Regions from separate parts of the Homo sapiens genome. Here region 1 is linked to region 2. Evidence: fine-mapped expression QTL. A gene starts in region 2. The other region holds a variant in brackets. All regions are shown on one strand. Distances are from middle to middle. Region 1 overlaps NUP62 (nucleoporin 62). Region 2 holds the start of NUP62 (nucleoporin 62).

Region 1 (8,786 bases), 22 kb before region 2:
TGGCACGATCTCGGCTCACTGCAAGCTCCGGATGGCAGCCATTTCTTAATATCATTAAATCAATGTTCACGTTTCCTGGAATAGCTCATCACTGAAAAACAAAACAAAACAAAACAAAAAAACAGTTTAGGCCGGGCATGGTGGCTGACACCTGCAATCACAGTACTTTGGGAGGCCGAGGTGAGCGGATCACCTGAGGTCAGGAGCTCAAGACCAGCCTGGGCAACATGGTGAAACCCCATCTCTACTAAAAATACAAAAATTAGCCAGGCGTGGTGGCGGGCACCTCTGTAATCCCAGCTACTCAGGAGGCTGAGGCAGGAGAATCACTTGAACCTGGGAGGCAGAGGTCGCTATGAGTTGAGATCATGCCACTCCAGCCTAGGCGACAGAGCGGGACTGCATCTCAAAAAAAAAAGGCCAGGTGTGGTGGCTCATGCCTGTAATCCCAGCACTCTGGGAGGCCGAGACAGGTGGATCACAAGGTCAGGAGATCAAGACCATCCTGGCCAACATGGTAAAACCCTGTCTCTACTAAAAATACGAAAATTAGCTGGGTGTGGTAGTGCACGCCTGTAGTCCCAGCTACTCAGGAGGCTGAGGCAGGAGAATCGCTTGAACCCGGGAGGCAGAGATTGCAGTGAGCCGAGATCACACCACTGCACGCCAGCCTGAGCAACAGAGCAGGACTCTCTGAAAAAAAAAACAACAACAAAACAAAAAACGGTTGGTTTGTCAAGATGCAAATCACAGTCCATATTGCATTTGAGTGACATTGTCTTGGTCAGTAAGTGTCACTATCAGTTCTGTGGATTCAAGGGAACTAGGGTATCTGAGGTGACCCCAGGGCACCAGGCTAGTCCCCATCACGGCAGCGCACCCGGTCTGCTTCTTGCCTCGGGAAACCTTTGGCGTCTGAGAGGGTTCAACCTGATGGTGTCTGGAGGGGAGACGGGACAAGGGCGCCCATGTGGGTCACTGTGTTTGAAGTCACCAGGGCCCTGGTGTGCAGAAGCCAAGGGTGTGGTCCTGTGGGACAGGCAGGGGAACAGCCGGGGTCACTGAAACCTGGCTGGGGGGCTGGCTGCTGTGCAAGAAGCAGACCTCGCTTCCGAGCGTGAGGGCTTTGCTCCCTGGGAGGTTCTGTGGAGAGCCGCTGCCCTGAGTCTGAGGGGCAGATTTTTAAAGCACCCTGACATTTTTGGGGTTTACTGAAAACTTGGGAGCAGTGGTGTGCTGAAGCTGAGTCATACCAGGTCATAAGAGCTGATTTACATTTTCAGGAGTTTTTGCTTTGCAAGCCACTCATTACTAAAAAATAAATTGTATTGATGATTAGTTTTTACTAAAAAAGAATAAAAAGTCATCATTCCCTCATGGTTTGACTACATATTATACTGTTATATGTGCTGGGTTTTTTTTTTTTTTTTTTTTTTTTTTGAGACAGGGTCTCACTTTTGTTACCCAGGCTGGAGTGCAGTGGTACGATCTCGGCTCACTGCAATGTCTGCCTCCCAGGTTCATGTGATCCTCCCACCTCAGCCTCCAAGTATCTGAAACTACAGGCAGGAGCCACTACGCCAGGCTAATTTTTGTATTTTTGTAGAGACGAGGTTTCGCCATGTTGCCCAGGCTGGTCTCAAACTCCAGACCCCAAGTAATCTACTCCCCTTGGCCTCCCCAAAATGTCGGGATTACAGGCATGAGCCACCACACCCAGCCCCCATTTGCCACTCTTATCCCTAAACAGGGGAAAGCAAAGCAGTAAGAGCTGAGATTCACCTTTAAAAGCCTCTGATTCCAAATTTAGTCACCAAATGTGTTGTCTTCATATGAATTAATGAGGAACTTAAGGAAAGGCCATTTGTCAGGACTGGGAAGGAAGCACATCTGTGTATTTTCTTCCTGGAAAGGGAAACTGAAATTACGATGGAGCCATCACCCGCGGTGGCACCCAGTCGGTTGCTGATGCTGCTGCGATCTCGGGATCCCTCCTAGACTCCCCCAGGAGGCCTGTTGGGACCATTTCTCACATGGCTTTGGGGCACAGAGCCTCCTGATTTAATGGAATCACTTGTGTTATTCAGAGTGGGGTGCTCAAGATCCTTTGGGGTATGGGAAGAAAATGCAGAACTTAAAATTTTTTTTTTGAGATGAAGTCTAACTTTGTTGCCCAGGCTGGAGTGCAGTGGCGCGATCTTGGCTCACTGCAACCTCCGCCTCCCAGGTTCAAGTGATTCTCCTGAGTACCTGGGAGTTACAGGCACCCACCACCACGCCGGGCTAATTTTTGTATTATTTATTTACTTATTTGAGACGGAGTCACTCTTTTGCCCAGGCTGGAGTGCAGTGGCTTGATCTCTGCTCACTGTAAGCTCCGCCTCCCGGGTTCATGCCATTCTCCTGCCTCAGTCTCCCGAGTAGCTGGGACTATAGGCGCCTGCCACCACACCCGGCTAATTTTTTTATATTTTTAGTAGAGACAGGGTTTCACCGTGTTAGCCAGGATGGTCTCGATCTCCTAACCTCGTGATCCGCCCACCTTGGCCTCCCAAAGGGCTGGGATTACAGGCATGAGCCACCGTGCCCAGCCCCTAATTTTTGTATTTTTAGAAGATACGGGGTTTCACCATGTTGGCCAGGCTGGTCTCAAACTCCTGACCTCAGGTGATCCACCCGCCTCGGCCTCCCAAAGCTGGAATTTATTTTAAAAATATAACTATAAGAAAGCAATTAAGCTTTGCTAATGGTTAATATACAAAATAGGAAATAATATGCAAAATAATAGGAAAAATATACATGTACACTTTGGAAATACATGCTCAAATTTTCTCATCATGATTGTGTGGCCCCTGCCAACGACCTTGTGGGCATTTTTTGGTACCTCCAGCACCAGATCAGGATCAGCTCTAAAAATGGATGCTGAACGCACAAATGTAGGTAAAATGCAAACTGCTTCCTACCTCCTAAGGGGACTCAAGGCCTCCCTTCCGGCAGAGGGGACAATATGAGTCAAGGCCTATGAACTGCAGGAAAAGGTCCCTGCTGTAGGTGACAGCTTTCAGAGAGAAGTAGCTGGGTTGTGGGGTCTTCCTCTGGTTTACTGCTCCCACCACACACACCCATGGTTTCTACTTAGACACAACTCTTGTCCTCCAGAGCCCAAGATGGTGCAAGGAAATTTTATTTATTTATTTGAGACGAAGTTTCGCTTTTGTTGCCTAGGCTGGAGTGCAATGGCATGATCTCGGCTCACTGCAACCTCCACCTCTCGGGTTCAAGCGATTCTCCTGCCACAGCCTCCCGAGTAGCTGGGATTACAGGCGCCCGCCACTTAACTAGCCACCAGCTCATGTTTGTATTTTTGGTAGAGATGGGATTTCTCCATGTTGGCCATGCTGGTCTCGAACTCCTGACCTCAGGTGTTCTGCCAGCCTTGGCCTCCCAAAGTGCTGGGATTACAGGTGTGAGCCACCGCACCTGGCCGGTCCAAGGAAATAATGACTCATGATCATGACTTCGGGAGACTTTTGGAACCTGGGCCATGAATCTCCCAAGTGTTGCCCACAGACTGAGATGGAACAGGCAGCAGGAGGCCAAAGGGGTACACTCCACTCCCCACAGCCCAGGAGATCTGAGTGCTTAGGACCATTCCAGTCCATAGAGCGAGGCTGGAGGGTGGAGGAAGAGCATTGGGCCCGTGTCTTTAGCCCCAGGTGACAGGAAGGAATGCTGCCCATGACATCTGTAACCACTGGAATAGCGCCTTAGGGATGGTACTAGATGACTTAACATGTGTGTATATTTTTTGAGACAGAGTCTTGCTCTGTCGCCCAGGCTGGAGTGCAGTGGTGTGATCATGGCTCACTGCAGCCTCAAAGGCCTGGGCTTAAATGATCCTTCCATCTCAGCCTCCCAGGTAGCTGGGACCACAGTTGCGTGCCACCACGCACAACCAAACTTTTTTGTAGTTTTTATAGAGACGGGGTTTCACCATGTTGCCCAGGCTGGTCTTGAATCCCTGACCTCAAGTGATCTGCCCATCTTGGCCTCCCAAAGTGCTGGGATTACAGGTGTGAGCCACCTCGCCCAGCCATATTTGTGTATATTCTACGACATAACTGTCACAAAACACCTGGAGCCCACTCCCCGTGGCGGCTTCACTCGTGTGTTCCTCTTCTACCACTAGCACCACCCCTTCCTGGAGCAAACCACGATTTGCATTTGTCTATTACTCTGTCTCATCAAACAAAAGCTGCTTCATCGCATACCCCTATGTCTATGCAAGCACTACTTCATTTGCTTGCCTGTGCGTTTCATGTGAATGGCACCCCTGCAGAGTCTCCTGGAACCTGCTCTTTTTACTCAGCTTTCTCCTCCTAACATTTATCCATATTAACAGCAGCTGTTTTGGTTTCACAATACATTTATTTAGAAAAGCAACATACAGTAATAGGTATTTCAGAGAATTCAGCAAAGTATAAAGACAAATACAAAAGATGCTTGGGATACAACCGCTAGCTTCTGCCTTCCACACACAGTGGATTTTACTGTAACTGACTAGAGTTACTCTGGTGCCACTAAGTTCCGAGCCAAGTCTACGGCCACCACTGGAAGCTGTGGCTATTTCTGTGGACTGACGTTACACTGGGCTTCATTGTTCTTTCATTTAACAAATGTGACAGGGACCGGGCTGGGGACACACGGGGAACGACAGTGGGTCTCTGCCCATGGGAACTCACAATCTAACAGCGAGACGAGGCACAAACGGCTAGCACAGGATAGCATAACAAGTGCCACCCAAGGTACAGGCTCAGGGTGCTACGGGGACCTGCAAGAAGGCCACCTGAGCTTCGGGTAGCTGGGAAGGCTTCCTGGAGGAGGTGAGGCCCAAGGTGGGGGTGAGCCTGGGCCAGGCAAAAGGCAGGCCTCTCGGCGCCCATCTGTGGTTCCTCAACACCCTGTGTGTGCAGGCCCCTCAGCTGACCTGTCTTCTGTGAAATTCTTGATCCCGCTCTGTTCTATTCACACTGTGCTGCTTTGCCTTGGTGGTTAGCATGGTTAGCTTTCACAAGCACAAGCTCACACTCGAAAACTAGGCTGCTGTCTCCTGGGAGTTTCTTTTTTTTTTTTTTTTTTTTTGAGACAGAGTCTCTGTTGCCTAGGCTGGAGTGCAGTGGTGTGATCTTGGTTCACTGCAACACCTCCTGGGTTCAAGTGATTCTCCTGCCTCAGCCTCCCGAGTAGCTGAGATTGAGATCACAGGCGTCCACCACACCTGACTAATTTTTGTATTTTTAGTAGAGACGGGGTTTCACCATGTTGGCCAGGCTGGTCT[C/T]GAACTCCTGACCTCAAGTCATCTGCCCGCCTTGGCCACCCAAAGTGCTGAGATTACAGGGGTGAGCCACTGCGCCCTGACTTGGAGGTTCTCTTACATTTGGTATTTTTTCATGACACCTATGACTATGCTTTGGAGAGAGTGGCTGCCCCCACGACCCTGGCTGGGACCAAGACCATCAGCACTTCTCCATCACCAGGCTGAGCCAGGATGAGGTGGGTGGTCGCAGTAGGTGAAAAGGGGCCAAAGATACTCAAATGAAAGCCACAGAAGCCACACCCATGAGGCTGCTGCCTGGGCAGAAGGCCCAGAATACCCTCCTAAATGGAAAAACGCAAAGCACACAGCGATCATGTCAAGGGCAGTCATGTGAAAGAAAGAAACAAACAAACAAGTATCTTGCCACAACCCCAAACTACAGACAACAGGGCGCATTCCCCTCATGAACTCCCTAGGGACCTGCGGGCCCCAGGGCTGCTGTCGCTCAGTCAAAGGTGATCCGGAAGCTGCGCTCCTGCTCCTTGCGCCGGCCCTCGCACACCTTGGTCACCTCCTCCACCTTCCTCTGCAGCAGGGCCGAGTTCTGGTCGATCCACTGCAGTGAGTCCATGTGCGCATTGAGGATCTTGCAGATCTGCTGCAGTGGGTCACTGGTGTCGGCGGGGGCCCCGGACGTGTTCAGGTGCTCGATGATGTCCTTGAGATCCTGGGCCATGCGCTTGAGCTGTGCATCGATGTTCTCAGCCAGCTTGTAGGTTTTCTCACGCTCCTCATCCGCGTGCTGCAGGTAGATGGTCCCGCTCTGCTCCTTGACCAACTCCTCCAGTGGGCTCAGCAGGTCTTCCAGCTCCTTCTGCTGGGACAGGATGAAGTCGAGCTCCTGGTCCAGCCTCTTCTGGTCCAGCTTCACCTTCTCCACCTCGCGGTGCAGGCTGGTGATCTTTTCTCCATTCTCGATCAGCGTGCGGTCCCAGGCGTTGACCTGGGTGGCCTGCTGGAGGAAGTGCCGCTCCTGGTCCTCTAGCTCCAGGCTCCATTTGTTGATCAGGCTCTCCAGCTGCGCGTAGGTCATGGCGGAGCTGGCAGCCGCCCCTGCAGCTGCGCCAGGGCCAGGTGGAGCGGTCACGGCAGCTGCTGTATTGCTGGGGATCCCGGCTGGCGCCAGTGGTTTTAAATTCAAGGCAAAGCCGGTGGTGCTGCTGCTGCTGGTGGTGGTGGCGGTGGCGGTGGCAGCGGTGGATGTTGTTGTGGAGGTGCCGGAAGCTGCTCCAGGTGCCTTTAAGCTGAAGCCCTGTGTCCCAGCAGTGGGGGCGCCCGCTGTGGTCACAGGGGTACAGAGGGAGAGTCCAGTGGTGGCAGATGAGGTTGGAGCAGTTGCTATTGACGCAAAGAGGCTGGGCCCAGTGCTGGTGATGGTGGCTGTGGGTGTGGGAGCAGCTGGCTGTGTGGCACCTGCTGTGGTGGCTGCTGGCGTGGCCGGAGTGAAGGGCAACGTGGCAGGTGCCGTGGGCTGGGCTGAATTCCCTGCTGAGCCAATGTTGAAACCGGAGGGTTGGGCCGTGCTTCCACCAGTGAATGAGAAGCCTCCAGATGTGGTAGCTGGAGCCACAGAGGTGGTGGAGGGGCCAAACACAAAGCCGGTGGGTGCTGTGCCCTGGCTGGAGGTGACGGTGCTCGATATGGCATTAGTGAGGTTGCTGCTGCCCAGCCCAAAGCCGCTGGGGTTTGCCATGGCTGGGGTGGCAGCTGTGTTGCTCAAGTTGAGCTTTGAAGCACCGATCCCCAAAGAAAATCCAGTTCCCCCCGAAGCAAGAGTCGCTGTTCCAAAAGTGAAGCCTGTCGTCTGTGTGGCCGGAGTCTGGGTGGCAAGTGAGAACAGGCCGGTGGAAGGGGTACTTGTGGCTGGTTGGAAGGGAGCCCCAAAATTAAACCCTCCAGTGCCAGAGGTGGAGAAAGAAAACCCTGTAGCAGGTGTGGTTGTTGCCGTCTTTGCAGTGCCAAACGTGAACCCGCCTGTAGGGGCCCCAGTGCCTCCAAAATTAAACCCGCTCATGGCTCCGGACTCTGGTGGCGGCAGCTACTCTGGCTCCCAAAGCAAATCCGTCGGTGTCTGCAGCCTTGGGAAGATTTCTAAAGCAGAGGAAGTGACATTGTCAGATGGCAGTTTTGGAAAGGCAAGCTCAGTGGCATGACTGGGCACAGTCGGTTTGGAGGGTGGTGGGATGGGATAATGATGCATGCTGTGTAACCTAAACTAGGCTCTGCTACATCGAGAAGGATCCAGAAGCACAAAAGCACGCCCCAGGGGTCAGGTACGAGGAGCCGGGGTGCTAGGGACGTGCGTGGCCATGTTCAGCCCAGTGGAAAGCTCCCACTCTGTGGAGGACGAGGCGGGAGAACAGGACCTTGGACCCACCTCAGCCTGAGGAGATCAGATTTGAGGCACTGCCACAAGCGGGACTAGGACACACAAGAACAGCTGTAGGACCTGCTCCCAGCGTGGGACCCAGTGAGGTTCCCTGGCTGACTCTAGCAGGGTGTGAGCGGATCAGCTCTTGCCACCCTGAGGGCCTCTCTGGACCTCAGAGAGAGAGATGGGGCCGGGAACCCAGGCTGGATGGCAGGGTCTGGGTTGCTGAAGGCCCCCCAGGCCCACACCTGCACTCTCTAAGAGCAGGAGAGGACACTGGAACTCCTCCTCCTAACTCAGGGGAGGGTCTGAAACCCATGTGCTCAGAGCACAGATGCCCCTGGCTGCAGTGATTGGCTCAAGGATAAACTGAGACCTGAGCCAGGCAATCGGAGCCTCCCCTGGGGTTTTCTCCAGGCTTGGAAGGCAGCTGCCTCCTTCACCTGTAGGTGTGGTGTGGAGGATTGCACCTGGGCCTCCCTTGGACACCTTCTCAACCATCTGCAGACACTGGGACATCACGGGAGACCATGAGCCCCACCAGAGATGGGTGGGGGTGGGGGTGGGGGAGGGATAAAGAGCACCCCAGAAGACCCATGGGCCACAGTATTTCCATTCAGTTCAAACTGACTTGATTTTGGTAATGTCTAACTGAAAAATCTCCCAGTGGTGCCATCTATCAGCAGGAAGGTCAAAGGTTACCTGGTGAGGAAAGGGTGAGAGGGAGTGCTGAATAGGGGTGGTTTCTTTTTCTTTTGGGAAAGGGTTTTTTTCTGTCATACTAGCTGGAATGCAGTGACATGATCACAACTCACTGCAGCCTCAACCTCCTGGACCCAAGTGATCCTCCCACCTCAGCCTCCCAGAGTAGCTAGGACTACAGGTGCATGCCACCATGCGTGGATAATCTTTTTTATTTTTTGTGGAAATGGGATCTCACTCTGTTGCCCTGGTCTTCAACTCCTGGGCTCAAGCGATCCTCCCTCTTTGTCCTCTCAAAGTGCCAGGACTACAGGCGTGAGCCCTAAAGATGATCAG
Region 2 (8,000 bases):
GGGGGAGGCCAGGACATGAGTCCTGAAGGGGCCACAGGCCTGGGTCAGGAATGTGCACACGAGGGGACTCAGGGTTCGAAGATCTGGGGAGAAGGGTCGCAGGCAACCACTGATGACCGGCTATGAACTAGAACAGGCTGGGAGGGGCTGGAGAGCTAAGGGTGCCAACTGGCACCCACTCACCCTGAGTCCAGCTGCTAAGTCTGGCTGGGCTGAAGTGGGTGGGACCCAATAGCTAGAGAGAAAAGGCGGCAAAACGGTGGGGAGGGGAAGCAGAGTCCCTGCCCAGACACCTCTGCAGCCAGCATAAACCGCACATAGCCAGCAATGCAATTCTCCTACTGACCAAGCTATTAAAAATTACCCACACCGGGCCAGGCGCGGTGGTTCACGCCTGTAATACCAGCACTTTGGGAGGCTGAGGCGGGTGGATCGCCTGAGTTCGGGAGTTCGAGACCAGCCTGACCAACATGGAGAAACCCCGTCTCTACTAAAAATACAAAATTAGCCATGTGTGGTGACACATGCCTGTAATCCTAGCTACTCGGGAGGCTGAGGCAGGAGAATCTCTTGAACCCAGGAGGCAGAGGTTGCGGTGAGCCGAGATGGCACCATTGCACTCCAGCCTGGGCAACAAGAGTGAAACTCCGTCTCAAAAAACCAAAAAAATTAAAAAACAAAACAAAACAAAAAACCCAGGCCGGGCACAGTGGCTCAGGCTTGTAATCCTAACACTTTGGGAGGGTGAGGCAGGAGGATCGTTTGAGCCCAGGAATCAGGAATTCAAGACCAGCCTGGGCAACATAGTAAGACCCTCCCCCCCATCTCTACTAAAAAAAGCCAAAAAAAAAAAAAAATAGCATCCTACCTGGCCATCCTCTCAATATCCCGCAATCCCAGTCTGAGACAAAACCAAATGGAAGCACATTCCATAAAATACCCAACCAGCATTTTTCCAAACTGTCAAGGTCATGAAGGACAAGGAAAGTCTAAAACCAGTCACAGGCCAGAGGAGGCTGCGGAGCCATGATGCCTAAATATAACGTGGCATCCTGAAGGCATCCGGAAGGAGCAGAAAGGGCATTAAGTAACAACTACCAAAATCAGCATCAAGTGTGGTCAGAATCAAGAATGGCATTTGGTCAATGGTAACATACTGATGTTGCCTTGGTTGTGACAAATGTGGCAAAGTAATGTAAAATGTTAATGGAAAAAACCAAGTGAGGGGCATACAGAAATTCTCCGTATTATCTTTGCAACTTTTCTGTTGAGTCAATCTACAATTATTCCAAAATAAAAAATTTTATTTAAAAAATAACCCCCTTGGGTACGGTGGCTCACACCTGTAATCCCAGCACTTTGGGAGGCTGAGGCAGGCAGATCACGAGGTCATGAGTTCGAGACCAGCCTGACCAACATGGTGAAACCCTGTATCTACTAAAAATATAAAAATTAGCCAGGCATGATGGTGCATGTCTGTAATCCCAGCTACTCTGGAGCCTGAAGCAGGAGAATGGCTTGAACCTGGGAGGCGGTGGTTGCAGTGAGCTGTGACGGTGCCACTGCACTCCAGCCTGGGCAACAGAGCGAGACTCTGTCTCAAAAAAAAAAAAAAAAAAAAAAGCTAGGTCTTGCTTAAGACTGGGTGTGGTGGCTCATGCCTGTAAATCCCAGCATTTTGGGAGGCCGAGGTGGGTGGATCACCTGAAGTCAGGAGTTCAAGACCAGCCTGGCCAACATGGCAAAACCCCGTCTCTACTAAAAATACAAAAATTAGCCAGGCGTGGTGGTGGGCGCCTGTAATCCCAGCTACTTGGAAGGCTGAGGCAGGAGAATTGCTTGAATCTGGGAAGTGGAGGTTGAAGTGAGCCAAGATCATGCCACTGCACTCCAGCCTGGGCGACACAGCAAGACTCTGTCTCAAAAAAACCAAACCAAACCAAACCAAACCCAGTCCCCATGTACAATCTAGAAGATCTTCGTAGGAAAAGATTCTACCGGCGGGGCGGGGGAGATAGGGCACGTCTGTGCGTCCTTACCACTGGCAGTCTGCCCAACAGTCTACCCTTAATTCCATCTGCTTTTGTTCAAAAATCTATACAGCAATGGAATGAGAACACATCCACCTTAATTACAGCAATAACAATAACCACTTTTATGCAGCACCTACTGTGTCCCAGGCGTTAGTCTAACTGCTCGACACGGATTAACTCATTTAATCCTTGTAACAGCCCTAAGAAGTAGGTACTTTTTTTTTTTTTTTTTTGAGACGAGGTCTCACTCTGTCACCCAGGCTGCAGTGTGGTGGCACAATCTCGGCTTACTGCAACCTCCGCCCCACCCCAGGGTTCAAGTGATCCTCCTGCCTTAGCCTCATGAGTAGCTGGGACCACAGGTGCAAACCACCACACCCGACTATTTTTTTGTATTTTTGGTAGAGACAGGGTTTCACCATGTTGCCCAGGCTGGTCTCGAATTCCTGAGATCAAGCAATCTGCCCACCTCAGCCTCCCAGGGTGGTGGGACTACAGGCATGAGCCACCGTGCCTGGTCCAGAGGTAGGTATTCTTAATGCCACTTCGTACCACAGGGGAAACTGAGGCACAGGGAAGGGAAATGGCCAGGGTCACACAGCTAGTAAGAGGGGTGCAGTCAAGTTTTGAACTCATATAATCTGGCTCCAGAGTCTATGCCAGGTATGTATAAAATTTGGCTTCCTGGGGCCACATTGAAGAATTGTCTTAGGCCACACATAACATACACTATTGATAGCTGATGAACTTAAAAAAAAATCGCAAAAAATTCGCATGTTTTGGTAAGGTTTACAAATTTGTGTTAGGCTGCATTCAAAGCTGTTCTAGGCCGCATGCAGGCCCACGGGTGGGACAAGCTCAGTCTATGCTCTTAGCTGCTACTCTGTATACTGCCTCAGTGATAACACAGCCCCTATAGGCCCAAGAAAATATAGGGCAAGTGCTCAAAAACTGGCAGAGTGGACAGTAAGTGCTCTAAGGGAAGGTGGTCAGATCCCAAGAAGGACTTCCTGCCCGCAACAGGTAAGGAAGGAGAAAGAAGCTTGTGTGTACCGCTCAGTATCAGGATTCCTCCACCTTCTCTGGACCTTGATTCAGTCTCCTAACTGCCACAGAAGGGATGAAGGTTGAACTCCAGCTGGGATGTCCTGATGTGGATGGGACAAGGTGGGTTTCTGCAACAGAGAAAAGACGGACATCCACCTCGGCTGGTGGAGGAGGGCCCAGTGCATGAGAAGGGGCAAGATGGCTACCCTGTGACTAAACGAAAACGGAGATCTTCCATTTTTGGCAGGGTTGGGAGATAGTTCCTATCCAGTGGAAGCTGAAGGACGGTTTGAAAGGAAGCCAAGGGCAAGGGATGGAGAAAAGGACGCAGCTGGGGCCTCGATGTCTGAATCCCTGCCAGGGGATGGGGCCTGGGCACCCATCATTTGGAATGGAAGATGAGGATAGCTGGAAACAGACACTTTAGAGGGATGAGGGAGACAGAAGAATGACAGCAGGTGTTGGACAGTCCAACGTCTGCGGCTCTTACAAGTGGTAAGGAAGAAATGAGACTGGGCCCCAGAGTTCCTATTAATAAAATATGCTGAGGCCGGGAGCGATGGCTCACGCCTGTAATCCCAGCACTTTGGGAGGCCGAGGCGGGCGGATCACGAGGCCAGGAAATTGAGACCATCCTGGCTAACACAGTGAAACCCCGTCTCTACTAAAAATACAAAAAATTAGCCGGGCGTGGTGGCGGGCGCCTGTAGTCCCAGCTACTCGGGAGGCTGAGGCAGGAGAATGGCGTGAACCTGGGAGGCGGAGTTTGCAGTGAGCCGAGATCGCGCCACTGCACTCCAGCCTGGGCGACAGAGACGGAGAGACTCCGTCTCAAAAAAAAAAAACAGTTGAACAGGAATGTATGAGTTGAGCTCTGTGCATAAGGCTTGCCAGACATCGTCTTATTTGAGTCTCATAAACCCACCAGGCGAGTTGATTTTTCTTATTTTACAGATAGGGAAATGAAGTAAGAGAACTTAAGTTATTTGCCCGAGGCCATCCTGGCAGGTCTGTATTTGGGAGAGTGCTGTGACTCATGCTGGACTCTAACCCACGAGGGTTTCTCAGAGTCAGCAGCTGGGGGATGAAGAAGTGAAAAGTGACTGGCAGGAAATTCTGCAAGCAAGGAAAGGGAAAGAGAAATGAACTGGTGCAGGTCTGCGGGAAGAGAATGAGGCTGGATCCTCAAAATCACAGGAGGAAGCAGGCCCAGACCTCAGAGGCAGAAAGAGAAAGAAACCAGAGCTTAGAGTCAGGAGGAGGAAACCAGACCCCGGAGCCACAAGGAGAGGGCTGGATCCCCGGCTCAGAGGGAAGAGGTCGGATCCCCAGCTGAGAGGGAGGAGGGTCCCGGACCCTAGGAGTGGGAAGGAAAGGCTCGGATCCCCTGATCCCCAGGAGGAGGGGACCCGGCTGCCTCCCGGTTGGGGCCGCGCGAGGGCGGGGCGCGGAAGGATCCGGGAGGGCCGTGCTCCGCCACCCAGTATATATCTGTCCCCAGTCCCCGGGGCCGCCTCATTCCCTGTCCTCGGATCACAGTCTCTTCTCACTACAGTGTCGCCGCCTCTGCCTGCGTAGCCCCGGCCATGGCTCTGTAGCCTCGACCCCTTTGTGCCCCCGGCCCGTCTCCGCGCTCACCACGCCTGCGCTCTCCGCTCCCACCTTCTTTCTTCAGCCGAGGCCGCCGCCGCCTCTCCTTGCTGCAGCCATGGAGTGAGTAACCGCTTACCTCTTCTCCAACTGCCTTTCCCGCCCTTTCGCAGCTCGTGGCCCTCTTTAGGGAGCCCTGGGGGGTGGGGAGTCGCGAGCGGGGAATCACGGTCGCGCAGGCGCAGAAGTAGTACGGTGGGCCGAAGGCGCGCGGCTGCGCATGCGCACTGGGCCCGGGGCCGGGTGGGAGAGTTCTAGACTCGATGTTTGTCAGCCCGCGTGCAGCTGGGCCTGAGCACTCCAGGGGAGGGTGTGTTTTTTTTTTTTCTAAACGATTCTTCGTGCTTGGTTGTTCCTGCGCAGTAGCCCACCAGTGCCCCGTAGTGAAAGAGCTGCGGACCCTGAATGGCCGCACATGCGCATTGATCCCCAAGAGGGCGGAGGTGTAAAGGCAATTGGACCGCTCGGGCGACGTAGCATGCGCCTTGGCCCTCGGCGCAGAGCCGCGTGTGGACGGGTGGCGTTCGGGTAGCCGTTCTCCGCGTGCCCCCTCTACCCTCCTCCACCCTCCCTGCCCCACGTTGCTCTGGCTCACAGCCCAGCTTCCTTCCTTTTAAACCAGGCACCTGCTGAGGCGGGGACTGGCTTAGATTGACAGGGCAGAAGGCGGGACCCAGAGGCAACCCTCTAAGTGGGTGGGGATAGAACCACTGTCGTCACGATGGGTGGGATTTCGGAAGCACATTGTGAGAAGGGGCGGGGCTAAACCAACCGTTAGTTGAGGGGTGGGGTTTCGATGTGACAAAGAGGCGGGGCCTCTGGGGAATCGGGGGAGGGGCGGAGCTAAATAAACAATGAGGGGCGGGGCTTGGAGGGGCAGCGGCAGAGCGAGGAGTGGGATTTGAGTGGATAACATTGCTGAAGGGCTGCGGCCTGGGGCAGTTCCCCTGGGAACTGGTTTGGGATGGAAGCTAGGAAGGCAGTGGGGCCAAAAGGAAATATTTTAGAGGAAGGGGCGTGGCTGGAAGAAAATGTCCCTGGGATTGAGTTTTTCCTTGAGGCGAAATATTCTGAGGTGGATGGGAGGGGCCTAAGGTAATTCCCCTGGGAGACCTTTAGGTTTTTTTTTTCTGTATTGGGGGAAGGGGTGGGGCATCGGTCCTACTTTAGGACCTAAAGAAATTCCCTTGGGAGTGGGTGGGGCTCAGAGATTTGGGTAAAGAAAGGGCAAATTTAGAATTCGGAGAGGCTGAGGCTTAGTGTTCTAAACGGTGGTTGGAAGGGGGAGGGAGGAGCCTCATGGACGTGCCTGGGGGTGTGGCTTGGCTTCCCCTTGATTTTGGCCGGTGGATGACGCTGTCCTGACCACACCCACTCTTGTCTCACGCGTGTAGGTCTTCCACTTTCGCCTTGGTGCCTGTCTTCGCCCACCTGAGCATCCTCCAGAGCCTCGTGCCAGCTGCTGGTGCAGCCTCTCCTGTTGCCATCAGTGCCCAGCACCTGTGCTACAGCCATGTCACTCCTGGCGACCCTGGGGCTGGAGCTGGACAGGGCCCTGCTCCCAGCTAGTGGGCTGGGATGGCTCGTAGACTATGGGAAACTCCCCCCGGCCCCTGCCCCCCTGGCTCCCTATGAGGTCCTTGGGGGAGCCCTGGAGGGCGGGCTTCCAGTGGGGGGAGAGCCCCTGGCAGGTAAGGGCAGGTGGAAGGTGGAGCTGGGGAGTGGAGGGCAGGGGAAGATGGGGGAGGAAGAACTCATCCATGTATTCAATAAATATTGAGTGCCTACAATGTGCCAGGCACTGTTTTAGGTGCTGAGGATACGGCTGGGAACAAGAAGAACATGGTCTGTGCCTTCCAGCAGCTCACACTGTGGGGAGTAGACCAGAGATAAATTAAATGAGAGTGTATTGGAATAAGTCAAAAACACCTAGCAGCTGAGCTACAAAATGACAAAGGGGACCTAATATAGAATGGGTAGCCAGAAAACCTTCTCCAAGTAGGTAACATGTTGACTGAGGCATAAATGATGGGAAGGAAGCCAGGCATGATGGCCTGTAATCCCAGCACTTTGGGAGGCCAAGCGGGGAGAATTGCTTTAGTCCAGGAGTTCAGGACGTGGGCAACATAGCGAGACCTCATATCTATAGGAAAAAAAAAATTAGCCAGGCATGGTGGCTCACGCTTGTAGTCACAGCTACTTGGGAGGCTGAGGTGGGAGGATCGCTTGAGCCTGGGAGGTCTAGGCTGCAGTGAGCCAAGATGATGCCACTGCACTGCAGCCTGGGCAACAGAGTGAAACCCTATCCCTTAAAATAAAAAAAAAGTAGGGAAGGAATGAGGAAAACACCCAAGGGAAGAGCATTTTAGTTGGAGGGAACTGTATATGCAGAAGCCCTCAGGAGGCAGGAATCATTTCATTCATTACTGTATCCCAAATGCTTGGCACATAGTGGGTTTTCAATAATTAATGAGTAAAGATGAAACAAGGCATATGTGCGTGTGTATCTGTGTGTGTAATGTGATCTAGTTTGCCTTTTAAAAAGAGAGAATAGAGACACCACAGATACAGAGTACTCGGTAAAGGAGATGTTGGAATGGTTGAAGAAATGCTTGGTTGACTGTTGCTTGAGTCATTGGTTGGTTGGCTGGTTCTTTTTTTCTTTTTTAATTTTTTTTTTCTCCTGGACCCTCTTATGGGTTAAGACTGATTCTTTCATTGGCTAATTTGTTGGGTTTTGGTTAACTGGTTCATTGGTTGATTAATGGGTTGATTGGTTGGTTGACTGATTTATTTGGTTGGTTGACCGATTCCCTGATTGATTGGTCGACTAGTTCATTGGTTGGTTGGTTGGTTGGTTGGTTGACTGGGTGGTTAGATGGTTGATTGTTGGTTGGTTCGTTGACTGGTTTATTGGTTTCTTCACTGGTTTGTTGGTTTATTGACTGGTTTGATGATTCAGTGGTTAGTTGTTTTACTGAATGAATGGGACAGATGCACCTGAATGAGACGTGAGTCAGCACCCAACTACGCAGAAGACCAGCAACTCAGGGAATTTTGTGTCCCTCCCCACTTTAATCCCAGGTGATGGCTTCTCTGACTGGATGACTGAGCGAGTTGATTTCACAGCTCTCCTCCCTCTGGAGCCTCCCTTACCCCCCGGCACCCTCCCCCAACCTTCCCCAACCCCACCTGACCTGGAAGCTATGGCCTCCCTCCTCAAGAAGGAGCTGGAACAGATGGAAGACTTCTTCCTAGATGCCCCGCCCC

Evidence for each region. PIP is the estimated chance that this variant, and not a neighbour inherited with it, causes the effect.
Region 1: its variant is fine-mapped to the expression of NUP62 in whole blood (INTERVAL, PIP above 0.99).

The regions. Positions count from the first base shown.
Region 1 is chr19:49,902,417-49,911,202 of GRCh38, forward strand. NUP62 (nucleoporin 62) reads right to left here. Exons shown (of 3, transcript NM_016553.5): 3 at 4,409-7,468. The coding sequence starts at 7,391. The coding sequence ends at 5,823. It also overlaps a transcript of IL4I1 not described here. Among named protein-coding and RNA genes, the nearest start is that of IL4I1, 9.9 kb to the left of the region's middle. RefSeq lists enhancers at 4,739-4,858, 5,500-6,221 and a silencer at 7,959-8,038. The variant C/T (reference allele first, on the strand shown) is at 5,339.
Region 2 is chr19:49,924,608-49,932,607 of GRCh38, forward strand. NUP62 (nucleoporin 62) reads right to left here and starts at 4,897. Exons shown (of 3, transcript NM_016553.5): 1 at 4,719-4,897; 2 at 3,087-3,208. ATF5 (activating transcription factor 5) reads left to right here and starts at 4,598. Exons shown (of 3, transcript NM_001193646.2): 1 at 4,598-4,793; 2 at 6,125-6,421; 3 at 7,815-8,000. The coding sequence starts at 6,244. It also overlaps a transcript of IL4I1 not described here. RefSeq lists silencers at 4,428-4,487, 5,338-5,387.